Linked DNA regions of Homo sapiens: region 2 is linked to region 1. Evidence: fine-mapped expression QTL. A gene starts in region 1. The other region holds a variant in brackets. All regions are shown on one strand. Distances are from middle to middle. Region 1 holds the start of GCN1 (GCN1 activator of EIF2AK4). Region 2 overlaps PXN (paxillin).

Region 1 (2,899 bases):
CTCACTGCAACCTCCGCCTCCTGGGTTCAAGTGATTCTCCTGCCTCAGCCTCCCAAGTAGCTGCAATTACCGGAGGCTGCCACCACACCGGGCTAATTTTTTTGTTGTTGAGACAGTCTCGTCCTGTCACCCAGACTGGAGTGCAATGGTATGGTCTCAGCTCACTGCAACCTCTGCCTCTCGGGTTCAAGCGGTTCTCCCACCTCAGCCTCCCCAGTAGCTGGGACTACAGGCATGTGCCACCACTCGGCTAATTTTTGTACTTTTAGTAGAGACGGGGTTTCACTATGTTGGCCAGGCTGGTCTGGAACTCCTGACCTTGTGATCTGCCCGCCCTGTCCTCCCGAAGCGCTGGAATTATACAAGGGTGAGCCACCGCACCCGGCCTTTTTTTTTTTTTTTTTTTTTTTTGGTATTTTTAGTAGAGACAAGGTTTTGTCATGTTGACCAGGCTGGTCTGGAAATCCTAACATCAGGTTGATCTACCCACCTCAGCCTCCCAAAGTGCTGGGATTACAGGCGTGAGCCACCATGCCTGGCCCCAGTATTTAAAGAGAAAGCAGCATCTGCTGAGAATAGGTGTTTTTGTTGTGATTCCTGTATTTCACTTAGAGATCTGTCTGCTGGAACATGATATATTCATTCTAACTAGGTCTGTGTCAAAGGTTTGAAAGCCACTGCTAACAGGGCTGACAACTAAGCTGTGGAGACCCTGTTCCCTAAATTGCAGCCACGTCTGCACGTAGCCTCTTGCCCTGTGGCCTTCAAAACTCCCAGCCTGGGGCGTCCAGCATTTCCCCAGGGCAGGGGCCTCGTTCAGTTCTGAACCTTCCCTGACCTCCGTATCCAGCCACGTTTGCTAACCCTGTACAAGTCATCCGCCAACTGAACTACAAACTGAGGACAAAAGACTAGTTCACCGACTCTTTTACCTAGTTTTTAGTTCCTGCTATCTAGGAAGCAACACTTGTTTTTCTAAAGAACTTAGTCATCACTCAGGAAAGGCCCACGTAGGGCTGGCCCTGCGGGCTGGAAGTGGGTCAGGGGCTGCAAGGCGGGCCCATAGCGTTACACCGCGGGCTCACCACGTTACAAGCGCTAGTCTCCCACGAGGCGCCCGGGGCTGAAGAGCGGGCCCTGGGGAGGAGGCCTTGTGGCTCGGGCGCGGGCCAACTTTAAGCCCGTGATCCGGCTGCCCGGGCTGCAGCGGCCGCCGTCCTGCCCGGGGGCACCAAGCCCGGGGCCCTGCCCCCGCTGGCTCCCGGCCTCGCCCTGCCGCGTGGGCCACGCTGTGACCCGGAAGCGTTCCGGAAGCGGTTCCGGAGTCAGCCCCGGCAGGATGGCGGCGGACACGCAGGTGAGGCGGGCGGCTGCGGGGCCAACGCGGCCAGGGACTGGGTGCGGACGGTGGCCGTCGGGCGGGGCCCCTCTCGCTCCTCGGCTTAGGGGCGTTGGAGGTGGTGGCTGTGGAGGTCGTAGTCTCGGGGCCGTCTCAGGCTGGACTCTCAGGGCTGCGGGCTTGGCCCGGCCCGGGCGGCGCAGGCAGACCGCGGGCTCGAGGAGTCCGGGGCTCCCGCCTCGACTTCAGCAGCTGGAGCTCGGCGGGGCCTTTGCCCGACCCCAGAGTTGCAGAAGTTCACTTTACCGAGCCTCTACTTCTTTTCTCCAAAGCCCTCCGGCTGTGAGCCCCGGGCCAACGCCAAGTCTTCCTTAAACTTTGTATTCAGCAAATATTCTTTGAGCACCTACTATGAGCAGGGACTTTGAGTGTAGTCTTTGGATTCATACAGATCTGGGCTTGAGTTCCTGCTCGTCGATTTCTGTGACATGCCAAACAAGTGACTTAACCCCGCCAAGTCTGCCTTTTCATCTATAAAATGAAGTTAAAACAATACTTATCTTAAAAGGTTGTTGTGAAGGTTCAGTGAGATAAAATACGGCTTGATATATGTTGGTTGTTATCAGATCCAGGGTTAGTGAAAAGAACTGTCCTGTCCAGGAAGAGTGTTACCTATGGGTACCTTGTAGTTCAGGAAGGACCTGGGAAAACCTTTTCCTCCACCCAGTTGTTATGTTTTAAGGTGAAAAGACATTGTCATGAGGCAGGGGAAGAACAGGTGTCTAAGGACAGCTGGGCTGATTTGGTGTCTCCAGGGTGATGGGATTGATTTTTATGTGTAGGCCCAGAAAATGACCACTTAAGCATTCAAAAAGACATTTACTGAGACTCCTATGCAGGTGGCTGATGTTCAAGTTATGTTGTACTGAATACTAGAAAGAAAAGCTTAGTATGAGAGGGTTAGGGGAATACATGCTGAATGTTTAACATTGATACTCACTTGAGGGAAAAATCTCTAGAGCTGCAATGTCCAGTATGGCAGCCACATGGCTTAAGTTTGTTAAAATTAAATTAAATAAAAAAATTCATTGTTTGGCTGGGCGTGGTGGCTCACCCTGTAATCCCAGCACTTTGGGAGGCCAAGGCGGGTGGATCAGTTGAGGTCAGGAGTTTGAGACTAGTCTGACCAACGTGGCAAAACCCCGTCTCTACTAAAAATGCAAAAAATTAACCGGGTATGGTGGCATGTCTGTAATTCCAGCTACTCAGGAGGCTGAGGCATGAGAATCGCTTGAACCTGGGAGGCAGAGGTTGCAGTGAGCTGAGATCGCACCACTGCGCTCCAGCCTGAGCAACAAGAGTGGGACTCTGTCTCAAAAAAAAAAAAAATTTAGTTCTTCACTTGTACCAGCCACATTTCAGTGCACAGTTAGCCACATGTAGCCAGTGGCTACCGTATTGGGTGGTGCAGGAGAATATTTCTGTATTTTATAATTTTTGTATTTTTAGTAGAGATGGGGTTTCTCCATGTTGGCCAGGCTGGTCTCGAATTCCTGACCT
Region 2 (2,899 bases), 28 kb before region 1:
ATTCTCCTTCTCGCAGCCTCAGTCCTCATCACCTGTGTACGGCTCCAGTGCCAAAACTTCCAGTGTCTCCAACCCTCAGGACAGTGTTGGCTCTCCGTGCTCCCGAGTGGGTGAGGAGGAGCACGTCTACAGGTACTGCCCCAGTCTGCCCAGGGCACCTTCCCTCCTGCTTAGAAATCTCAGGGACCTGGCCAGGGTGGGAGGCAGCGGAGGCCCGGGAGCAGGCATAGCAACTGGGCCTTGTGGGGTTATTCTGGTTTAAGCTGCAGAAGGCCTGTCGGTGGGCCCGTCTACCTCATCAGTGCCATCTCCATGCAGTGGACATTCTGGGCTATCACAGCATCTCCGTGTAGCTGAGGAACTGAAGCAAGACTTCATTCCTCCCCTCTTCTTTTTTTCTTTTTTTTTGAGACGGGGTCTCGCTCTGTCACTCTGTCGCCCAGGCTGGAGTGCAGTCGCGCGATCTCGGCTCACTGCAAGCTCCGCCTCCTGGGTTCACGCCATTCTCCTGCCTCAGCCTCCCAAGTAGCTGGGACTACAGGCACCCACCACCACGCCTGGCTAATTTTTAGTAGAGACGGGGTTTCACCGTGTTAGCCAGGATGGTCTCAATCTCCTGACCTCATGATCTGCCCGCCTCAGCCTCCCAAAGTGCTGGGATTACAGGCGTGAGCCACTGTGCCCGGCCTCCTCCCCTCTTCTTACCACATCCCTTCCCTACCCTCTGTCCTCTTGCGGGGGAAGACTTCGCATCTCCTCTGCCTTGTTCTCCTTGGGAATCTGGGAACTGCCAAGCCAGTACAAGGCCAGAAAGCATCTCTCACTATCTTCTTTCCTTTGCCTCTCAAAGCTTCCCCAACAAGCAGAAATCAGCTGAGCCTTCACCCACCGTAATGAGCACGTCCCTGGGCAGCAACCTTTCTGAACTCGACCGCCTGCTGCTGGAACTGAACGCTGTACAGCATAACCCGCCAGGCTTCCCTGCAGGTAGGACCGGGTCCCTGGGGCAGGGTCTACCAGGGCCCAGGGCCCATCTGCTGACCTCTAGATCCCAGGAGGGCTCAAGGGCTGAGCAGCCTTTTTCTCTCCTCTCTGCAAGATGAGGCCAACTCAAGCCCCCCGCTTCCTGGGGCCCTGAGCCCCCTCTATGGTGTCCCAGAGACTAACAGCCCCTTGGGAGGCAAAGCTGGGCCCCTGACGAAAGAGAAGCCTAAGCGGAATGGGGGCCGGGGCCTGGAGGACGTGCGGCCCAGTGTGGAGAGTCTCTTGGATGAACTGGAGAGCTCCGTGCCCAGCCCCGTGTGAGTACCCACTGGGCCCTCCCCAGGTGGGGAAGGGCTGGCCCAGCCTGCCCCGGGTCCAGTGTCTGTCCCCTTAGCCCTGGTATCACCCACTCCCTCCCGTGTCTGCCATTTGCCAGGCACTGGGGGGATAGTGGTGAGTCACATGGACACCATCCCTGCCTTCAGCCAGTCACTGCCAGTCAGAAAGGACAGACGTTGTGCAGGCTGAGGGCGCCTGGAGCTTAGCAGCTCTTAGCACAGGCTTTGGGGCCACACAGTGGGGTTCACATCTTGGCTCTGACAGTTACTGTCAGCTCTCAAGCCTTAGTTTTCCCATCTGTAAAATGGGACAAGAACTTATGGGATCACTGG[G/A]ATAAGACCACCTACCTCAGTAAGGGTGAGAACCAGTAATCCATGTAAAGCGCTTGGAATGGTTTCTGGTGTGTAGTGCGTGGCACACATGGTGAGTGCCCAACACGCGAGCTCTTACCAGTGCCGTCGTGTTACTGCAGTAGCCTCACCTCCATGTCCAGTGTTGTGGAGGAAACACAGGGCGCTTGGGCTTGTTTCGCAGGCCAGCTTTCACTTGGGCTGGGGGCTAGAGGAGTCTTCCTGGCACTTCCTGGTGCCATTGAACTGCCCTTTCTTCTGACCCAGTGATGGGTCCCCAGGAGAGACAGGGAGCTGGTGGACCTCCCTGGGGTTGGGGATGGTGAGACCCCAGTGTCCGAGGTGAGAGGTCGATCTGATCCCCGGGAAGTGTGGGGCTGACTGTGGGCTCCCCACTGATGCTGTGCCCACCCTGCAGCCCTGCCATCACTGTGAACCAGGGCGAGATGAGCAGCCCGCAGCGCGTCACCTCCACCCAACAGCAGACACGCATCTCGGCCTCCTCTGCCACCAGGGAGCTGGACGAGCTGATGGCTTCGCTGTCGGATTTCAAGGTGCCCTGTGAACCCTCCATCTTCCCTGCCCTGCCGCCCCTCCCTCATCCTTCTCCTCCCTTACCTCAGTGTGGGTAGCTGGATCTTGGCATCTCAGTGTTTGGGTGCCTTGCCCCTGAGCCAGGGACACTGTCATGCCCTGGCCTTGCTGTGATGCCAGGAGATGGGGAGGGAGGGCCGGGTCAGCCTGCCTGAGGATTGCAGTAGCCAGTGAAGGCAGACAAGCTGGAGAAGTGCTCAGCTGGGACATTCCTTCCTCCCTGGGTGCTCCCAGCCTCTCAGGTCGAGGGGATCAGGAGGCTGGGACGCTGGGACAAAGAACCTTGTGTTGATGGCTGCTCTGGGTGGGGGAGGGCATTCTCTGCTGGGCCATGTGGGACTTGGGAGCCTGTGCCTGGGAGGTCATTTGCCCTGGAGCCCCATCTCCCACGCTAGCTGTCCTCAACACATCCTCTTTCTTTCTGCCTCTGATCCTGAATCCACAAGCCTCCCTTGCTACTCTTCTCCCATCCTTCCCTCTCGCCCTCCAGGGCCTCTGAGTTCCCACGAGCGTGTCTGTGGGAAACCATGGGGCCAGGCTTGCACGAGGTACCTGCCCTTCCCCTCCCCTGCTGGGCCTCCCCAGTCCTGCCAGGCCTGAGATGTTTAATTTAGAGGATTCAGTGTTTCCTT

The links. PIP is the estimated chance that this variant, and not a neighbour inherited with it, causes the effect. A credible set is the group of variants that fine-mapping cannot tell apart.
Region 2: its variant is the best candidate, but not a certain one, in a credible set for the expression of GCN1 in liver (GTEx, PIP 0.56).

Annotation. Positions count from the first base shown.
Region 1 is chr12:120,193,138-120,196,036 of GRCh38, reverse strand. It overlaps GCN1 (GCN1 activator of EIF2AK4), which reads left to right and starts at 1,322. Exons shown (of 58, transcript NM_006836.2): 1 at 1,322-1,357. The coding sequence starts at 1,340. RefSeq lists a silencer at 1,025-1,614.
Region 2 is chr12:120,220,951-120,223,849 of GRCh38, reverse strand. PXN (paxillin) reads left to right here. Exons shown (of 15, transcript NM_001385981.1): 3 at 17-132; 4 at 851-987; 5 at 1,100-1,301; 6 at 2,092-2,227. It overlaps LOC124903034 (a long non-coding RNA gene), which reads right to left. Exons shown (of 3, transcript XR_007063487.1): 2 at 1-2,535. Among named protein-coding and RNA genes, the nearest start is that of PXN-AS1, 21 kb to the right of the region's middle. The variant G/A (reference allele first, on the strand shown) is at 1,656.